3 linked regions of the Homo sapiens genome follow. The protein of the gene in region 3 purifies or fractionates together with the protein of the main gene of each other region. This does not show direct contact. Each region holds a gene or a part of one and is shown on either strand. Other genes may lie near its edges.

Region 1 (7,026 bases), on a different chromosome or scaffold from region 3:
TTGTATAAATAATGCCGATTAAGAATTAGTCCTGGAATAGTTTTCGAATTTCTAACTCTGTAGATCTAAAACACAATTGTAAATGGTATAAAGATGTAAGAATCATATTGTGATAAAGTCAATCTCAAAAATAGAGAATCCAGACCCTTCCCAGATAATTTAAGAACTGAGTTTTCCTCAACTTAAACATGATGGCCACACAGAAAACAGTAAAGACACTTTTCGATGTGATACAACTGTATAAAACTCGAGAATATGAGTATTTAGGTGACCAATGTATAGACATTAATAGAATTTTAAAAACACATTTAAATCTGAAGCAGAAAAAAAAAGACAATTTACAAAGAATTATTGAGCTCTAATCATCATCAGAGTCTGAATCATATTTCTTTCCTCGGATAGTTTTCTTTTCCAGCTTTGTGAAGTTTGTTCCAAATTTCTTTTGGTTCTGAAATGGTGGCTCCATTAAATTTCCACTTAAAAAAAAAAAAAAGCATTTTATTCTTTATGATTTAGTACTAGTATACTAAACTGCACAAAAATCTATCTTTGTTTTCTTCCTGTAACATAGAATAAAATTTCTTTAAAATGCTGGTGTCAGGGAAGAGGTATAATGCTTATATTGATATTGATGGTTAATAGCCTTAAACCTTATTGTGTCCTACTGAATGTTTTAGATCAATTTTATTTTCCTTTCTTTTTGAGACAGGGTCTCACTCTGTGGCCCAGGCTGATGTGCAGTGGTGTGATCACAGCTCACTGCAACCTCCAGTTCCTGGGCTCAAGCGATCCTCCCACCTCAGCCTCCCGAGTAGCTTGGACTACAGGCGTGTGCCACCATGCTCAGTTAATTTTTACATTTTTTGTAGTGATGACATCTCACTACATTGCCCAGGCTTGTCTTGAACTCTTAGGCTCAAGCAATCCTCCTGCTTTGGCATCCCAAAGTGCTGGGATTATAGGTATGAGCCACTGCACCAGACCTATTTTCCTTTTTATCATTAATTATGGATTAACATTTGGTTAACACAGTGCTCAGTTGTCACCGGAAATGAGAGAAACCATCACACACCTCCCGATATGATGCATCACTTCCATAATATGCCCGTCAAAAATCGATAATCTGAATCTAATCTTGAGGAAATTTAAGACAAACCCAAACTGGGAGATGTTCTCCAAAATAAACAGTTTGTACTCTTCAAAAACATCAGTCTTAAGAACCAAAGAATAACAATGGTAACTAAAGACGTAATAACTAAATGTGCTGCATTTTTGGTATGAAGGACAATTATTGGGACAATGAGAAAACTTGAAATAAGAGCGGTAAATTACACAATAATTCCTGTTTCAATAATTGTACTGTCGCTACGTAAGAAAATGTTCTTGTTCTTAGAAAATATATATGGAAGTCTTTAGGAGTAAAGGGACACTGTATTCACAATTTCCACTCAAATGGTTCCCAAAATACTTCATAGTATCTATAAAGACAATGATAAAACAAATATAAAATGTTTAAAATTGGGTAATATGGGCAAAGGGTCAATGAGGATTCGTTGTACTAGTCTGCAGGGGGTTGTTTCTACTAGTTTTTTGTAGAGACGAGGTCTCATCTCACTATATGTTGCCCAAATTGGTCTCAAACTCCTGGCCTCAACTGATTCTCCCACCTCAGCCTCTCAAAGTCTGTAATCTTCTGAGATTACACAAGTGCCCCACCCGGCTGCAATTTGTTTAAGGCTTAAAATTACTTCAAAATATATAACTTTATTTAATAAATATTAATATTTTATGTTAATATTAAGGAAATGAAACCAATTTCTACAACATAGGAATGATTTCGGCATGTCTAGGAGAGTCAGAGAAAAGACGGGAGGGAAATGGGGGAGAAAGAAAAACGTGAGAGAACCTTCTACTTCCTGAAAGGCACCATGACTCTGGAATGGTAAGTGCACAATTTTACCTGTTACTTTTGCAAATCAAGAAAAGGCAAAAAAGACAAGATGATATGCTCTGATTTGTGGAATTAGATAAATTATTTGTCTGAAGAAGTGGACAAAGAAATGGAAGTTGGATTTTAGATTGTTTTCAAACTAAAACTGTTCTTCATAGCAAGCAATGTAAGCTAGGCATAGAAACCTTTTTCTATTCATCAGCCTCTATAAGTAAAACAGAAATATCCATGTTAAAAATCTAGTATTTTAAAATATAACTTTCTTTGCAAGAGTCTGCTTTTAATTTTTATTTTATCAAAGAGAATCACTTAAGTCAGAATTCATTTGAGCAATCTGGCTTAAATTGGGGAATAGTCAACACTGGATTGCCATTTTAAGTTTCCAGATTAATACAAAATTAGTGTCAATAGTATACGTTAAGCTGAAAACTTTTATAGTCAGGAGTACGGTGAGACTCAGTTTTACCTATTAAATCAGTTTAATCTGTAAATCTGATTTTGCCGTAAAATCACGCTAATATTACACACTTCAAAAAAACATGCTTTTCCTTTGAGAAACTTTCCACATCTCAGCCAAAATGCCTTAATTTCATAAAATAAATGTTACAATACAAAAATCTTTTGTAAAAATATCAACTATATATGAATTAAAATCAATCTCTTCTTTTGTTAAAAGTTACCTGTAATTAAGAATGTCAGAAGAACCGAGCCTCCATTCTAAAGTTTCTGTGGTGAAGTCATCTGTATTTCCTAGGTCAGTAAACCCAACAACATAATCTTGTGTTTTCCCATCTTTTAGCAGTGCTAGTGTGGGAATGACTTTGATATGCAGTCTCTCACAAAGGAAAGGTGCTTTTTCCACATTCAGCTTCAAAAATTTGGTCTCGAGGTGTTTCTTGGACAATATTGCCAGATGTCTGTCTAGTATTTTACACCTGTAAGTGACCACACATAGAAAATTATAAGCTAAAACCACAGATCGCTTTTTTCAAAATAAATATCATCAAGGGAAATCTAATTATGTAGTTTTTCTGTTGACTCTCATAACATGGCAGCCAACTTAAACTTGTGTCAGATGACCTCACTTCCAGATCAGAGGTTAGCTGCCTGATTACGAGATGGGAAAACAGCCTATAAGATTCTAGAAAGTCAGATTTGCATTAATGATATTCTCTTTTAAAATATTAAATATATGCTTTAAGTCATAAAGGAAGTTGTCCTATCTCCTACACAGGAAACTTGAAGAGGAACAAACTGAAACTTGACAAAACTCGGAAGAGACTTACAAGAATCAGAAGTGCACACATGGTGCCATATTTGGAAGTCATGAAGAAAAACTGAACAGCATTACCGAGGAAAAACTTCTTACTCCTAAATATGCAACGCTGTCAGTAAGAAGCACATTAAGGCTAAGGGTTACTAATAATATTTAAATAAATGTGGCCATTATGCTTCTAGGAAATTAAAAAATACCAGTAGTAACTTTTTTATTTTTTATTTTTTTGGAGGTGGCGTATTGCCCTGTCCCCCAGGCTGGAGTGCAGTGGCACAAGCTCGGCTCACTGCAAGCTCCGCCTCCCTGGTTCATGCCATTCTCCTGCCTCAGCCTCCCAAGTAGCTGGGACTACAGGCGCCTGCCACCATGCCCGGCTAATTTTTTGTATTTTTAGTAGAGACGGGGTTTCACTGTGTTAGCCAGGATGGTCTTGATCTCCTGACCTTGTGATCCGCCTGCCTCGGCCTCCCGAAGTGCTAGGATTACAAGCGTGAGCCACTGCACCCAGCCTACCAGTAGTAACTTTTATTAAGCCATCTTCCAATGAAGACGGAAACAGAAGTGAGATTTTCTTGGCCAGGTGCGGTGGCTCACATCTGTAATCTTGGCACTTTGGGAGGCTGAGGCAGGCGGATCACTTGAAGTCAGTAGTTTGAGACCAGCTTAGCCAACACGGTGAAACCCTGTCTCTACTAAAAATACAAAAATTAGCTGGGTGTGGTGGTGCATGCCTGTAGTCCCAGCTACTTGGGAGGCTGAGGCAGGAGAATCACTTGAACCTGGGAGGTGGAGGCTGCAGTGAGCCGAAACTGTGCCGTTGTACTCCAACCTGGGCAACATAGTGAGACTCCATCTCAACAAACAAAAAAAGTGACATCTTCTTTACATTAAAATTTATTTTCTGGCCTGATGCAGTGGCTCACGCCTGTAATCCCAACACTTTGGGAGGCTGAGGCGGGCAGATCACTTGAGGCCAAGAGTTCAAGACCAGCCTGGTCAATATGGTGAAACCCCATCTCTACTAAAAATACAAAAATTAGCTGGGCGTCATGATGGGCACCTGAAATCCCAGCTACACAGGAGGCTGAGGCACGAGAATCACTTGAACCTGGGAGGTGGGGGTTACAGTGAGCTAAGATTACACCACTGCACTCCAGGCTAGGCGACAGAGTAAGACTCTGTCTCAAAAAATTCATTTTCAACTGGCCAATTCACGAGTGTTTCTAAAACAGACTATTGTAACAATCTTTTAGACCGGTGGTTCTTAACCCCAGGTGTTCATTATGATCAACTTTTATTTATTCATCTTTTTTGAGTTGGACTCTCACTCTGTCACCCAGGCTGCAGTGCAGTGGCGCGATCTCGGCTCACTGTAATCTCTGCCTCCTGGGTTCAATCGATTCTCCTTCCTCAGCCTCCCGAGTAGCTGGGATTACAGGCACCTGCCACCACGCCCGGCTAATTTTTGTATTTTTAGTAGCGATGGGGTTTCACCATGTTGACTAGGCTGGTCTTGAACTGCTGACCTCAAGCAATCCACCTGCCTCAGCCTCCCAAAGTGCTGGGATTAGAGGTGTGAGCTACCACACCCAGCCTGCCGTCAACTTTTAAAATATCCAGATGAATCAAAATTCTCTGGCAGTGGAGTTGGGAAACATACAGCTGTTCTTATGCTCAAATAAAGCTTGAGAACTACCTCTAGATGACTCACACACAAAATACTTCATGGTTATTTTTACCAGTAAGCTTTTTGTGCACTTGATGTAGTTTTTCCTGAACTAAGTTTGGCTCTAACATAAGTTATGTGTAACCTTGGTGCCTCATCACTTTTTCCCCGGATATGTTTTTTCATATGTTACTCATGTAGTTCAGTAACGAGATTTCAGTGAAAAATGGTAAGAGAGAACAAATTAATAAATGGTTTTTAAATAAAGCTCAAAACAAATGATAAATCAACCTTTATATGAGAAATATGTTCCTGAAAATTTGTAAATAAATCAACTCCATACTTTAACTGCAGTAAGGAACGTATTTTTTTTTTGAGATGGAGTCTCGCTCTGTCGCCCAGGCTAGAGTGCAGTGGCACGACCTCTGCTCACTGCAACCTCCACCTCCTGGGTTCAAGCAATTCTCCTGGCTCAGCCTCCTAAGAAGCTAGGATTACAGGCACCCGCACCATTGCCTGGCTAATTTTAATTTGTATTTAAAGAGCAAGACAGAGTGTCTTGCTCTGTTGCCAGGCTGGAGTGCAGTGGCACGATCTCAGCTCAATGCAACCTCCGCCTCCCAGGTTCAAGCAATTCCCCTGCCTCAGCCTCCTGCACAACTGGGACTACAGGCACGAGCCACCATGCCCAGCTAACTTTTTGTATTTTAGTAGAGATGGGTTTTCACCATGTTGGCCAGGATGGCCTTGATCTCCTGACCTCATGATCCACCTGCCTCAGCCTCCCAAAGTACTGGGATTACAGGCATGAGCCATGGCGCCCAACCCGTCAATCAATTTTTAAAAATCCAAAACAACAGTCATGGTATAAATAGCTATAGGCCTTTACGTATGTTTAAAAATAACTAAAAGAGCATAATTAGATTGTTTATAACACAAAGGATAAAAGCTTGAGGTGATGGATATTCCATTTACCCTGATGTGATTATTAAACACTGCATGCCTGTGTTAAAATATCTCATGTACCCCATATTTACCTACTACTACCCACAAAAGTTAAAAATTAAAAAAATAGCAATAGGCTTAAAACATGGGTTCCAATCTCTCTCTTTTTTTTATCATTTAGTATCTGAGTGATACTAGGTGAGTCAATTTCTCCAAATCTTGGTTTCCATACATGAAATACAGGAATAATAATAAGTGCCTCTGAAGATTATTGTGAATGTTCTAGGGATAATATACATGAAAGCATCCTGCCTACTATGTGCTAGGAACTTTGCTAATATATAAAGTTCACTGGATGATTTTGATTTTTCAGTTCTGTTTGAAGGTGAGTACTCCTGGTGATGCACTGTTTATACACCATCAAATGTATTTATTGACCACCTACTATGCGTCAGGCAGTTGCTTTAGGGCTATGATCCCAGAGAACAGTAGGTCACAATACAGGCAAATGCGCTGCCTCTACAAAACGAACAATCTAGTTGGGAAAGACATAAAAAAAACAAGTGAGGCCGGGTGCCGTGGCTCATACTTGTAATCCCAACACTTTGGGAGGCCAAGGTGGGTGGTTCACCTGAGGTCAAGAGTTTGAGACCAGCCTGGCCAATCTGGAGAAACCCTGTCTCTACTAAAAAGACAAAAGTTAGCCGGGTGTAGTGGTGGGTGACTGTAGCCCTGGCTACTCGGGAGGCTGAGGCAGGAGAATCACTTGAACCCGGGAGGTGGAGGTTGGAGTGAGCCAAGATCCTGCCATTGCACTCTAGCCTGGGTGACAGTGTAAGACTCTGTCTCAAAAACAAAAAAAAACAACAAAAAAAAAACAAGTGGACAAATAATATTTTACATACTAGTATATTTATATATCACCTCATCATATTTGTCAGAGGTTGGCAACTTGAGGAATGTGTGCCAATGCGAGATGGTTGTGTACCATAAGGGCAGAGGTTTCTCTGATACCTTTCTACCTGCCTAATCCCTTCTCTCACTGTTCCTCACAAGGGATTTCACCATCTCAATATTTTGTTTCATTTTTATTCTCTTAGTCAATGAATACCAGGCAATCAATTCTTGAAAGGTGTTAACTAACAATGAAGCTGTTGGGTTGTGAGATCAAGACAAAGGGGCAAGAAG
Region 2 (7,224 bases), on a different chromosome or scaffold from region 3:
GACTAATGACATCACAGCCCTGCTTGTTTTGAACAGGGTAGGCACACTGTCTAAAAAACATGTGACCAGAAGAACGAGAAGCTGGGGAAAGCACTTGAGGACACAGACCTAAAGATGTGTTTTAGTGGCTGCTTCAAACTGTGGAGACAAACCCAGTACACAATTCTTAATTCTATCTCTAGAAAGCCAAGAGGTTCTGAGGCTCCATTTCATAACAGAGACTTGAACTGAAGCATGAACTGAAAACAAAAATGAAGAACAGCAATTTGCTAAACCTCAAACCAAAGACAAATATTATTCCTTTTGCTGAACCATGAACCAAGGGTTTAATCACTTTACAGTAGAGTTGAGGCTATTGATTTTTGTAAAACCACTGAACAACACAAATAAGATAAAAATATTCCCTGAAGTATTCCTCTTTGGTTGGAATCCTATTCTTGGAGTCAGGGATTCTTATAAAAGATGTAGAAAGATTAGAGTTTTTTGAGATCTTAACATATGAAACTGAAAAGCAGGGCAGAAACAAGGTATTCTCTTCCATCTCCTTTGTGGATCAGCCTCCTTAAAACCATGTAGGACTCACCAAGTGTTAAGACTGCATGAGGCCAGAGCCTGCTGTAATTCCTAGAAGACAGTGCCTTCCATGCAGGTAATTTCCTTGAATGTTTTCTGGCCTGCCCTCAACATTCCCTAAGTATCGAAAGATGACTTGGCTGGGTATGGTGGCTCAAGCCTGTAATCCCAGCACTTTGGGAGGCCAAGATGCGCGGATCCCTCGAGGTCAGGCGTTCCAGAGCAGCCTGGCCAACATGGTGAAGCCCTGTCTCTACTAAAAATACAAAAATTAGCCAGGCATGGTGGCATGTGCCTGTAGTCCCAGCTACTCGGGAGGCTGAGGCAGGAGAATCGCTTGAACCAGGAGGCCAGGAGGTAGGGGTTGCAGTGAGCCGAGACTGAGCCACTGCACACCAGCCTGGGTGATGGAGTGAGACTCTGTCTCAATTAAAAAAAAAAAAAAAAGGTCGGGCACGGTGGCTCACACCTGTAATCCCAGCACTTTGGGAGGCTGAGGCGGGCGGATCACGAGGTCAGGAGATGGAGACCATCCTGGGTAACACAGTGAAACCCCGTCTCTACTAAAAATACAAAAAAAAAAATTAGCTGGGCGTGGTGGTGGGCGCCTGTAGTCCCAGCTACTAGGGAGGCTGAGGCAGGAGAATGGTGTGAACCCAGGAGGGAGAGCTTGCAGTGAGCCGAGATCACACCACTGCACTCCAGCCTGTGCCACAGAGCAAGCCTCTGTCTCAAAAAAAAAAAAAAAAAAAAAGTTAAAAAAAACCCCTAATATTTAACTTATTTGCTATGAAATTCGGCAAATAAGCTATTTTCCCCCCACTAGACTGAAAGATCACTGAGGGCAGAAGACCTTTTCTGACTTTTCATTGCTATATTGTCAGCTACAGGGTTAGGCATTCAATAAACATTTATTGGGTGAATTCTAACTTGGATTTACCCCCTGGTTTAAGTCCTTGACTGATTACAATCTGACCGTGAAGGCTGGGCAGGAGAAACAGGTAGTGTCCAGATTCTCCGTAAATTCCAGAAAGATCCAAATGTGGTCCATCAGCAGGTGATGGGGCATAGTTTTGGTTCACACCAACTTACCCCACACTGACTTGAAGTATAGTCCATGAATTCAGCCATTGTTCTGAAGGAAGCACTAAGGGTTGGGGGTCTCTCTTCTCTCTATTTGAATAAATGGCACGTCACAGGTTAGCTCTAGGATTCCCTACTGGAGAATGAAGCCATTTTGGAAATAGTCTCCTTTTTACTTTTGGAAAGGCTCTGCAAGTTTATGTCAGAAAGAACGATGTTATTGAGAAAGAATTCCAACTCTAAAAGATAGACATGCAATTTATCCAGGATCTAAGAGACAGGCTTGCAGGCTTTCCTCTACTATCAGATGATAGCTGTAAGATTTTTTTTTTTTTTTTTTTTTTGAGACGGAGGTTTCGCTCTTGTTGCCCAGGCTGGAGTGCAATGGCGCGATCTCGGCTCACCGCGACCTCCGCCTCCCGGGTTCAAGCGATTCTCCTGCCTCAGCCTCCCTAGTACCTGGGATTACAGACATGCGCCACCACGCCCGGCTAATTTTGTATTTTTAGTAGAGACGGGATTTCTCCATGTTGGTCAGGCTGCTTTCGAACTCCCGACCTCAGGTGATCCGCCCGCCTCGGCCTCCCAAAGTGCTGGGATTGCAGGCATGAGCCACCGCGCCCGGCTAATTTTTTTTTTTTTTTTTAAGTAACCAACCAGGGCTGAACACTACCGTTATTCTACAGCTACCCAACAAGAATCTGTCAAATGTAAAGCGTTTTGAAAGGACTTTTCCATTCATTGTTCTGATCCTTTCCAGCTTCCGCTAAGGGAAGGTTTCCTCAGCTGCTTCTGCGCTGCGCACCCCTGGCTCCCAGCGGGCTACCGCGGCGCGAAGGACTGGGGCGGCCCCCGGCACAGCGACCCTCACCTCTCCCGGGAGAACGCGCTGCGGGCCGGCTGCCGGCTGTTTCTCTAGGTGGGGCGCCTCCCGGGCAAGGACCCCCATGCAGCCTTTGGGACGCTCCAGGGCATGCCAGTCCACCGCCCTCCTCTTGGCCCTCTCCAGCACTTCTAGAGCCAGCCTTGCTGAACGCTGCAGGGAACGTCGGTCCACCCCATTCAGCGCTGCGGCCGCCAAACAGTTGTCCATGGCTCCCTGAGTGGGCACACAACGTACAAACGCCGGCGGGTCAGCTGGGCCGCGGCGACCCTGCTCCAAATCCGGGTGGGAGCCCCAGCCTCGACCTCCCTGGAGACCACCGCTCCTGGTCCGCCCCCAACGCACACTCCAGCGGGAGCCCAGCCAGGACTAGGCCTAGCGCGCCCGCCCCTTCCATTTTCATCTACCCCTTCCGCTACTTAGGGAGCCCCCTCACCCGGCTCACTCGTCAAGGCGCATGCGCGCAACGCTATTCTAGGAAGAGGGACCAGGCCTAGCGCTCCCGGCGGCGCCGGCGCAGCTGGGCCATTGGCGGAAGGCGGGAGAGGCGGGAGAGGCGGGAGAAGTGGGGGAGGCGGGGCGGCTGGGCGGCCAAACACGCCTTCTGCGTCCCAGCCTTGGCGTCTGCGCGCGAGTTGCCTGGTTAACTGCTGAGCGCTGGAGGCGGGGCGCCGGGCGCTGGGGGCCGGGGGTCGGGGGTCGGGGGCCGGGGGTCGGGGGTCGGGGGCTGGGGGCTGAGGACTGAGTCGAGCCAGCAGCCCAGGGCATCTGTCCACGCTGTCAGAGGAGCCTCTGGGCGTGGGGCTGGCCCTTAGAGGGCTACTGCGCTGCTTAACTTGGTGGGTATAAAGGCAGGTCTCCTGTTGAGCTAAAAAATTATGGGGTACCAGCTAGGTAGGCAACATAGCGAGAACCCGTGTAGACACACACACACACACACACACACACACTAGCCAGGAGTGGTTATGGGGTACCAGCTAGGTAGGCAACATAGCGACAACCCGTGTCCACACACACACACACACACTAGCCAGGAGTGGTTATGGGGTACCAGCTAGGTAGGCAACATAGCGACAACCCGTGTCCACACACACACACAGTAGGAGGAGTGGTGGCGCGCATCTGTAGTCCCAGGTACTCGGGAGGGTCGAGGTGGGAGGATCGCTTGAACCCGGGAAGCGGAGGTTGCAGTGAGACGAGATCGCGCCACTGCACTCCAGCCTGGGCGACAGAGGAAGACTTCGTCTCAAAACAAAAACATCATGGGGAATAAGGCAAGTGCCTCCCGCGCCTCTTTCTGCTTGGTCTACATTTTGGGGTGTCGCTACTCTTGTTTGAGGAGGTGATTAGGCCAAACTGTGTGGCTGCCAAGGTGGCCTTTGGAGAAGGGAACAGCTCGGGATTGAGGCGAGACGGAGGCGGGGCTGTCTGCAGATGTTCCTGGCCCCCGGGGCAGGGGGCGCCTGAGAAGTTGTAGGGTCTCTCATAATCCCTCAGCGCAGCTCTCTCTCCCCTCCAGTGGGAAGTACGGATTCACATATTTTTGGAGACCTGTTCTCTTGGGGTCTGACTCCATCTTTTAGGAAGACTGCACCATGTTTAAGTAAGGAACTGTGAATGCTTACTTAAACCATGTTTAAGTAAGGACCTGTCACTCCACTCCGCTGGTTATTTGGTAGGAGATACAGCCCAGGCTCTCACTGCTAATTAGTGACTCAGCCGCACCACCCAGCGCAAAGCAAAGCGCCGATGCTTAGGAAGGTCCACTTTGAGGGACACGCTCAGTGGGGGTCACTTTAAGGAACACAAATAAATCCTCCTTTAAGTCTCCTCTGTGGTTCATGAAAAAGGAGAGAAACTCCATCCTCACCTAGTCTCAACAGATGGCTTGATGAGCAATTATCAGGTACCAGGTGAGTAGTAGCCGACCAATACGACCTCCTTCTATGCTACTTAACTTTTGCAAATTTCCTGCTTTCCCCTTATAAAAAAGAATAACAGTGAGTGAAACCCTACATTATTCTTGAGATGATTTTTTTTTCATTTTATTGGTATTCCAAAACATTTCCTTCAATAAGGGTTTATCAAGTGCCTCCTTTAGAACATAGTGGTTGTACGTGCATGGGGTCCTGTATATCCACTCGGGAGAGCTGGTTTGAATTCTGGCTCTGCCATCTTTTTTTTTCCATTTCTTCTCCTTCTCCTTCTCCTTCTCCTTCTTCCTCCTCCTCCTCCTTCCTCTTCCTCTTCTTCCTCTTCTTCCTTCTTCCTTCTTCTTCTTTTTTGTTTAATAAAGAAACGAGGGTATCACCCTGTCAGCCAGGCTGAAGTGCAGTGGCACGATCTCGGCTCACTGCAGCCTCGACCTCCTGGGCTCAAGCGATCCTCTTCTTCAGCCACCACGCCCTGCAAATTTTTTAAATGTTTCGTAGAGACAGGGTCTCCCTATGTTGCCCAGGCTCTCTGCCACTTTTTTGCTCTGTGGTTCTGGGCAAACATATTACTTCTTTGAGCCTCACTTTTCCTCATCTCTATATCTGGGGATTCCAATAGTACTAACTTCTTTAGACTGAGCTTCTTGAGGGAAGGGACTGTATCTGTAGTGTTTAGAGTTTAAGGTGCATCTAGTATTTACTATTTTGTCTGTCACAGTAAGGACTAAAAATAGCCCTTGAATGTGTGAATTGGGTTGCCATTAGGATTCTGTGAGATAATTCCTGTAAAATGCTTAGCACAGTGCCCGGCAAAGATAAGTGCTCCATAGACTTAGCTAGCATTAGTATGTGCCAGGCACTGCCCTAGGAGTTGTGGAGAACAGAATGTGGATCAGACTAAAGGAGAATAAAAAAGAGGAAAGAATGCACATAAAATCTATAATACCAAGAACAAAATATTCGGACATGCCATAAGATTGACACAGATAAAATGCTATCAAGCTTAGGAGACTATGTTCAGCTGGGAGGATCAAGAAAGGTTTTGCAGAGAATGTAGTTTTCAAGCTAGGCCTGATGGCCTAGGAATCAGTGAGAGAAGAGGTAGATAAGATACCCGTTAACTGCTTTTACAATAAGTGTGGTTGGAGTGGGACAGAATTTGGTCCTCTTTATTTTTTATGGATTTCAAGGTTTTAGCACATTCCTCATAGGGTTATTGTGAATATCAAGTAAGTTAATATCTATAAAGTGCATTTATAGTACTTGGTACATAGTAGGTGCTCAATAAATATTAGCTAGTATTATTATCTTAAGCTTCAGCCTGGTCTCCCAAAATATGCTCTCACTTACCCAGTATCATAGCCACACCTCATCTCATTTGTCTCTCTTCCCCATTCTATTTTAGTCATTCCAGTTGAGGCACTACTTTCTTTTTGTCAGGTCAGCTCTTTGAAACTTTTCCCAGTGGTTCCCAGTTGCCACCTCTGTTGCCATAGCCTTAAAAAAATTTTTTGTGTGTACTTTTCCAATCTAATTTAAATTATGTGTAGTTATGGTTTCTTCTCTCCCAATAGCCTTTCAATTCCTTGAAGGCAGAAACTGTTCCTTATTTGTCCCTAAACATTCCAGGACCTGTTAAGTAGCGGGTGTTCAGTAGCCATTTGTTGAAATTACTCTGATTTAATTTTTAAGTTAAATAGACTTCTGTTAGCCCACATAAAGAGGTGGCTTTGTGGTGGCTCACACCTGTAATCCCAGAAGTTCAGGAGGTTGAGGTGGAAGGATTACTTGAGGCCAGGAGTTTGACAGCAGCCTGGGCAACATAGTGAGACCCCTGTCTCTATTTTTTAAAAAATTAAAAAACTAGCCTGGCATGGTGGCTCATACCTGTAGTCCTAGCTACTCGGGAGGTTGAGATGGGAGGATTGCTTGAGTCCAGGATGTTGAGGCTGCAGTGAGCTATGATCGTGCCACTGCCCTCCAGCCGGGGCAACAGAGTAAGAACCTATCTTAAGAAAAAAAAGAGTTGGCTTTTCTATTAAAAAAACACCTACCTACATGAACTTTAATGAATGTAATGAATATTCAATTGTAACTACATTTTCTCAGAATTTAACATTTAGAAATTTATGGGAAAGAAGATGCTTGAAATGAAACTGAAACCAAAAGACTCTAAATTAAATCTTTGCATTTGTTTTTATTTTTCTATTTGTAAATATATTTGTAAATATATTTTTATATGTGCATATTTATAATTTTAAAGATTCATCCTGTAAACCACAGATTGAGAGACTTGAGAGATTCCTTTTTATCTTTTTTAAGATTGGCTGGGAATAATGATAGAACATGACCTACCATCAGGCCCCTTGTGGATCAAATATAGCCCACGCCAAATGAAAGCCACTGGTGAGAACTGAAAATGGAATTGTAAATGGAGAGAGGGCAACTAATTAGGAATGTGCCTGGTCAACAGGGAAATAGACTGTCAGTATTGACAGAAAAATAAACTATTGATATGAGTTTTTAATGACTTCTATCTTCACAAGGGTAAATTCACTAATGAGAACAGATGAAAGTTAGTTGTCAGGGTTCTATGTTTTGGAGGAGATGCGTTGGAAGAGGTCTTTAATTGTGAAATGGGGAAAGAGACTGGTGCTGTATTTGGGACTTTTTGAGGAGAAAAAACAAGTCCAGTGAAGAGCAATGTAAATTCCTTTTCTTTATGTGAAGGGGGCCAAAAAGGGTTAAAAA
Region 3 (7,026 bases):
GGGAAAGGATACCATGCCATCTCAGCTCCATTTCCGTTAGTGACATCAAGGGTCCTTTGCGTCCTTCATGTGAGCTGGACTGGAGACCACTCTTCCTTGCTTCCCCATCCCCCACCCCCTGGCTTTAACACCTCTTTTCCTCGTGGGCCACATGTGTCCCTCTTGCAGCCTCGCTCTACCCATGTGCTGGCATGGTAGAGGAGGATCTGCAGAGTCCCAGCCTGGCCTCAAGAGCCAAGGAGATGAGGAATTGGGGAACCTCTAAATCCTGCCTTGCCCCCCACCCCAAGACCACATATCCACATGACAGCCACCTGGAGCTTCACTCATTCCCTGGACGTGCCCATGGCCTCTCCAGAGCCACAGGCAGCCAGGACCTCTCTTCCTCCCTCGGGTGAAATGGCCCTGCCAAGCATGCCCCTATTGCTGGCCACCACCTCTTGTCAAGGGATTTTGCTCTTACTGAAACTGCTACACTACGAGCCTGTGTTATGGCTGCCAACCTACGCTCCAGAGGGCAGGGCCCATATCCATCTCAGTGACGAGGGTGGTCAGGGCCACAACTAACATTTATTGAGCAGCTACCTAGGGCCAGGCATGGGCCAAACATTTCCCAGATTCATCTCCCTTAATTCTCACCATGAATGTGGCAGGCAGAGCCCACAACCACCAGCACATTACAGATAAACATACCAGGGCTTGGTGAACTAAAGGGATTTCCCCAAGGTTGCACAGAGGATAAGGAAAGGTCCAGGCTCAAACTCATAGCCTAGGTTCTCAGAAGCCCTGACTCACTACTCAGTTCCCTGGCATGCCCCTGCAGTGCCCATCCAGCAAAGAGTGGGAGGAATAAACAAACACAGTGTTTCTTTCAAAGCTCTTCAGTGGCCCAGGCCAGCTCTAGGTGAGCACACTCCAGTAGTACCCAGCATTGGGGATTTTGGAGTCTAGTGGTCTGGCCAGGGCTTGAATGGCTCCAAGAGCCAGGATCCCCGGGAAGGCTCTGCAATGTCATTAATATGGACTGGAAAACAGGTCCGTTATAATTATGTTTTTAAAAATCCAGCACCTGTTGTCCAACTTCAAACGGTCCAAATGCGGGACCAAGTGCAGATGACGGGATGACGGGTGAACCCACAGTGTGGCCTACCTGAGTGAGGACATCCAGCTGGCCCACAATGTGCTCCAGCGTGCTAGTCAGTGTCTGGGGCACACTCACGGGCTCCTGGGGCTGGCTCTGCACAGACTCCACACTCCTGCCTCTGCCTGGGGGGACAGGGAAGTCCACTTCTGGCTAAAGACAGAAAGAAAAAAGTTCCTCAGTCTATCCAGTGCTTGAAGAAATACTGTGAGAGGAATAGCCCCTCCAAAGGATGAAAGGGAAAACCACCAGCAAATTTGAGAAGGTAAGCTCCAAGTGTCAGTAAGAAACAGCAGCGTGGCGGTGTTCCCACATCTGGGTCCACACACATACCTTTCCAGGCAGAGGCCTTAAGTGGGGAGTGGAATCAGAATGCCTTGTGATCCAGGCAGGAAGGGGCCTGGGGAGGAGGGCAGGTAGGCAGGCCAGTGAGTGGCCTCAGCCTGCTCTTGGAGCCCCTCAGGGAAGCTAGCTGCCTCCCATATCTTCAAGCAGCTGGCACCCACCAGCAGGCATCCAGGTGAGTCCAGAGATGCTGAAGCCTGGCCTGGGCCTGAAGTCCCTCCTCTTCCTGGTCAGCTCAACTCTAATTCCCCACCCTTCAACATGGGGGTGTGCCAGGCTTCACAAATGCCTTTCCCAGGCCCAAGAAGCTGTGGCCCAGAACTTGGTGGAAGTGTGTGTGTGGCGGGGAGAGGGGTGTTCCAACCCCACCCTGGCCCAGATCCCCTGGAAAAACAAAGATTTCTGTGTGCATGTCCCAGGCTGGCACATGGCTGGCAGGAATCAGACTCCACAGGAAAGGCACCCCTGGGCTGCTTCAGATAGGACTCCAGGAGGTGAGGGGCTTAGTGTTTCTGCGTAAGGCCCTTCAGCCCCTAAATTCAGCAAAGTCAGCTCCTTGCCTTATGCACAAAGGCTTCTGTGGACCGAAGAAGTGCTGTGCACATGTTCAGTGGGCGGGATGCTGGAGCCAAGGATGTCCAAGGGCAGGGCTGGTCTTAGAGCCTGCAGTTCCTCTGTGGACTTGTTCCTGTGGGAATGTGGTTCAGCACATGGACCCTACCTGCATGTTTTCCTTTATTAGGTAAGTATTCTATTCTCATAGATCACAAACTTTCAAGGGCATGCTGATTTGAACTTGGAAAAATGCTGGCCCTCATGGTAGCTACAGGAGAACTTGAATGTGAGACATGAGCCAGAGGGATGTTCTTGACAGCATGAGCAGCACCGTGTCCACACACCTATCATCAGCATGTCGGCCACTTCCGTGGCCATTTCTAAGACTTCGGCCATCAGGGCTGGGTCTCTTCCAGTCCTCCAGGAATCAACGTGCTTCAGATCTCAATGCTTACCCAGAAGCCCATCCCAAAAGGAAATTTCAGAAGTCCACCAGCCTTGCCAGGAGAGACTTCAGCCTACCACAGTGGCCCCCAGACTAAGGCAGTTCTGTCAGGAGACACAGCAGAGTGCAGTGGTGAGGAATGGTGACTCAGACAGTCACTGACCAGCTCTGGGCCTCCATTTCCTCATCTATAAAATAGGGATGAAGACTGGGCCAGTCCTTCAAACGGCTGGGCTGTGAGAGGTGCTTATCTGAAGCTACCAGCAGGCCTTTCTTAAGAAATGTTCAGTGCTGTGCCCACTCCTTCCAGAGGACCCCCTAGCAGTGCAGACACACACTCTTCCACTGGAGGAAGGGTGTGAGCAGGGAACTCTTCTGTCCCACAGCCAGCATTGTCATGGAATGGGCCAGAGTCTGGTGCTGCTGGCTGCTTAGGAAGGAGGGAATGGAAAATGTGAGTTTCTGCAGAATGGCCCAGAAATGGACAGTGCTGAGCTCAGCCTCTGGAAGCACAGTGGATGCTGCAGGGAGGCAGGGTGAGTACCACTGACTTTAGCAATAGAAACCCTCCTGGATGAGCCAAAGCTGAGCCAGCTCCAAGGGAGTATTAAAGACAGCGGCCATGGCACTCCAAGCTGGAGAGGTGGCCTTTACAACAGAGGGTTGCGGCAGCCACCATGTTTTCCCACCTATACCACACTTTCATGGGCTGTCTCCATTTGACAATAAAGAGAACTAAGGCTCAGTCAGAAAACGACTGTCTAAAGGTAACCAGCCTCAAACTCTAGTGCTGCCCTGAGCCATTTCCCTGCCTCCTTGCCCACTCCCATCAGAAAACACCACAGCACTTAACACTCCACCAGTCCAGCAATCGCCATGGTTTACTTGCCATCCACTGTGTGCCCTCATTTAATGTCACCTCACTTAATACGTGTAACCTCACTTCATCCTTATGATGGCCCTTCCCAATAGGCATTATTAACCTTATTTTTCAGATATGGACCCTTGGGCTCAAAGAGGTTAAGTAACTTGTTCTAAGTTACCCAGCAAATAACAGAATTGGGATCTGAACCCAAAGTGCAGGCTCTTCCCGGACATGAGACAGCCTCTGGCAGGTGACATTGACTGCAGCTGGGCTTCCATGTGCACAGTTCCTCTCCAACGTCCCCATGGAGGCCTCTGAATCCTAGGTCTAATGCTTTTTGCGTCACTTCCCCAACCCAGCTGCCCTGGAATGATTGCCCAGCACAGAGCTGAACTCAGAGCAGGCCCTCCACAAACACTCAACACCTCAAAGAGCAGGGCCCACCGAGGTAAAATTCCTGTGTAATGAATCCTCCCCAATGTCTGCACTGCAGCAAAGGGCCAGCAGCCCCACCCCTCACAGCTCTGTAGCCACTCACCTGCATGCCAGCACTCTGGAGCTGTGGCATTTCCCTGAGAGCTGGGCAAATAAGCAAGAAAGCAGAGATAAGAAAATGACACACAAGAGTGGGAAGAGACAGTCGTACCAGAGCCATGAGTAATGACAGTGGCAGAATAACCCAAGCAGCATTTAAATGCAAAAGTCACATCAGCATTTTGTCTGTTCAACATCAAAGAGTCCTAGGGGTTTTGCCTGGTGGTTCTCAGTTAAGTATAACATGAATAAAATAACACAAAGAGGCCAGACACGGTGACTTACACCTGTAACCCAACCACTTTGGGAGGCCAAGGCAGGTGGATCACTTGAGGACAGGAGTTCAAGACAAGCCTGGCCAATATGGTGAAACCCTATCTCTACTAAAAATACAAAAATCAGCCAGGCATGGTGGTAGGCACCTGTAATCCCAGCTACTCGGGAGGCTGAGGCAGGAGAATCACTTGAACCCAGGAGGTGGAGGTTGCAATGAGCTGAGATCACACCACTGCACTCCAGCCTGGGCAACAGAGCAAGACTCCGTCTCAAAAGAAAAAGTAATGCTCACTAAAATAACAACAAAGATTAATCCACACATATACTCGTATAGGCCTACACCAATTCAACAACATTTCACTTTTGCCAAATATAAACATCTTAATACCAAAACAAAAAAAGGTGACTCTCAAGAGATGGCTCTAACTTTGGGAAATATCACTTGGGGTCTGCAGGTGTCTCCTCTCATGCCACCCTGGGGTGGGACTCTGGCCTCTCACAGTTGGTTAATGTGTTGCCCACCTCAGTTCCTGTTTCCTCTGCTGCCTGCTTTTCATACACCACCAGGAGCTCATCACTTCACACACAGTAGGAATTGCCTAAATGTCTGTGGCTGATACTCAGCTACCCAGACACATGAGGAACCAAACCATAACATTTCATTAAAAACAAAAGAAACAGCTTGTAGATCTTCCTTGTGACAAGAAATCAACCCATCTGGAGTTGACTTCTTGAGAGGTCTCTGAATTGACCGTGATCTCCCTCTTCCATCAAGATACAAGTATGGATAAGGAGCTGCTGCCTAGGATATATAAAGCTGGGGAAAGTGTTAATTCCTTCCTAACAAGAAAAAGACTGACAATCTAAAAGAATCATAACTTCTCTTAAATCAGAGAGCTGAAGTCACAGAGCAACCAGTAGCCTGAAATCTAAGGAAAGACAGACACTTCCAAGGAAAATAGAAAGTGAGCATCAGCTGTGGGTCACCTATGGCAAAGCATGAGGAGAAGAGACGCCAAATACCATACGAGTGGGTAAGTTACAGTTTTAACAAACTGCTGGAGACCAAGCGCAGACTAGGGTAAGAGTGCAGAACCCCCAGGTGCCACAGACACAAGTAGAGCTTGCACCCATGCACAGGTTCTCCTCCACAGACCTCCACTGGGCTTTCATGACAAAAAAAAATGGGGGCAGAACAGTAGATGGAAGAAAACCGTTCTTGGAGGTGCAGGCCTAGGAGAGGAGAGTGAGTAAGGAAAGGTATGAAGCCCTGCCAGGACCTCTCCCCTGTAGAAGAGCATCCTGAAACTACTAGGGAAAAGCAAATATAAAAACACCTCTTCCCTTGAGGGAGAGGCAGGAAACTATCCTGAGCTGAGATTATCAAGGTCTCCTTTGAATGAGGAAGGAGCAGGACCGCTAAGAATGTCTCACTTTTGAGACCCAGGGAGACAGAGTCTGCTTAAGACTGAAGCTGGGTCAAGACAACAGGGCCCACCCCAACCCTCAGCAAAAAAAAAAAAAAAAAAAATATCAAGCACCAAGCAATAAGCAACAGCAGCCTATCTAGGGAGGAGGGCCAAGAACATGGAAAAAAGCATGCCCCTCTGAGGGGCATGCCCACAGGGCTGGCTGAAAGGTGAGAGTGAGGAAAATGACTGAGAAAATCCTCCATCAACCAGACCTCATCCTAGGTACGTTAGGTAACACTAAACTAAGCTCAACTCCTGATAAGACTATTTACCTCAGTCTTTACTGTCCTAAGCATGATGCCTGGCATTTAATAAAACATTATGAGACACAAAAAGGCAGGGAGAAAAAAAAACCCCACTGTCAAGAGACAAAGCAGTCAGTAGAAGCAGACTCAGATGACCTAGATGTTGAAACTATGAGATACAAAATTTAAAATAACTATGATTAATATGGTAAAGGCTCTACTGAATAACACACATGATCAAATGGAGAATTTCAGCAGAAAGGCAGAAATTATAAGAAAGAGTCAAATGGAAACAACAGAAATAAGAAACCCAGTAACAGAGAAGTATGGCTATAATGGGCTCAATGGGAAAATAAATTAGTGATCTTAAAGATAGATCAATTCCTCAAACTGAAACACAGAGGGATAAAACAGAACAGAGCTTCCATAAGCTACAAGACAATACTGTCTCTAACACATGGACAATTGGAATCCTAGAAGGAGAAGAGAGAGAAATTAGATATTTCTTATAATACAAATTTGCTGGTAAAAAATTGTCAGCTTTGGTTTTTCTGGAGGGGAAAAAAAGGTCTTATTTCCCCATCATTGCTAAAATATTTTTGCTAAGTACAGAACTTTGGGTTGGCAGTTTTTCTTTCAAACTTTAAAGATGTTACTCTTTCAGTTTGTATAGTTTCACGAGAATTCTTCATAATTCTTACATTTGATCCACATATATATGTCTTTTTTTCTCTGGCTACCTTCAAGATTTCTTTCTTAATCCTTGGTTTTCAGAAGTTTGAATATAACTCATCTAGGATTTTGTTTTGTTTTGTTTTTCTCCAGCTTGTTTGCTGTTTCTCTGAGCTTCTTGGAACTATGGTTTGATGCCTTTCATTATTTTTTGAAAATTCTTGGCCATTATCTTTTCAATAGCACCAAAACAACATGAAGTATATATTATTAATAGTTTCCTAGGGCTGCTGTAACAAATTGTCACATTTGATGGCGTAAAACAATCTAAATTAATTCTCTCACAGTTCTGGAAGTCTGAATCAAGGCAGGGCCACATTTCCTCTGGAGGCACTAAGGGAGAATGCTGCCTTCCCTCTTTCAGCTTCTGGTGGCTCCATAATTCCTTTGCTTATGGCTACATAACTCCAATCTCT

The links.
Region 1: the proteins of POC1A (region 3) and TXNDC9 purify together in Homo sapiens (affinity purification with mass spectrometry; 2 studies listed by BioGRID and IntAct, with this or other methods). This does not show direct contact.
Region 2: the proteins of POC1A (region 3) and AKIP1 purify together in Homo sapiens (co-immunoprecipitation; 2 studies listed by BioGRID and IntAct, with this or other methods). This does not show direct contact.

Annotation. Positions count from the first base shown.
Region 1 is NC_000002.12:99,319,324-99,326,349, forward strand, and holds part of TXNDC9 (thioredoxin domain-containing protein 9), read right to left. Parts: intron 2,887-7,026; coding exon 2,632-2,886; intron 2,461-2,631; exon of another isoform or gene 1,803-2,460; intron 477-1,802; coding exon 359-476; 3' UTR 1-358. UniProt on the Homo sapiens protein: Significantly diminishes the chaperonin TCP1 complex ATPase activity, thus negatively impacts protein folding, including that of actin or tubulin.
Region 2 is NC_000011.10:8,906,975-8,914,198, reverse strand, and holds the start of AKIP1 (A-kinase-interacting protein 1), read right to left. Parts: upstream 3,011-7,224; 5' UTR 2,976-3,010; exon of another isoform or gene 2,756-2,975; 5' UTR 2,750-2,755; coding exon 2,528-2,749; intron 1,747-2,527; coding exon 1,666-1,746; intron 1-1,665. UniProt on the Homo sapiens protein: Enhances NF-kappa-B transcriptional activity by regulating the nuclear localization of the NF-kappa-B subunit RELA and promoting the phosphorylation of RELA by PRKACA.
Region 3 is NC_000003.12:52,095,419-52,102,444, forward strand, and holds part of POC1A (POC1 centriolar protein homolog A), read right to left. Parts: intron 1,295-7,026; coding exon 1,151-1,294; intron 1-1,150.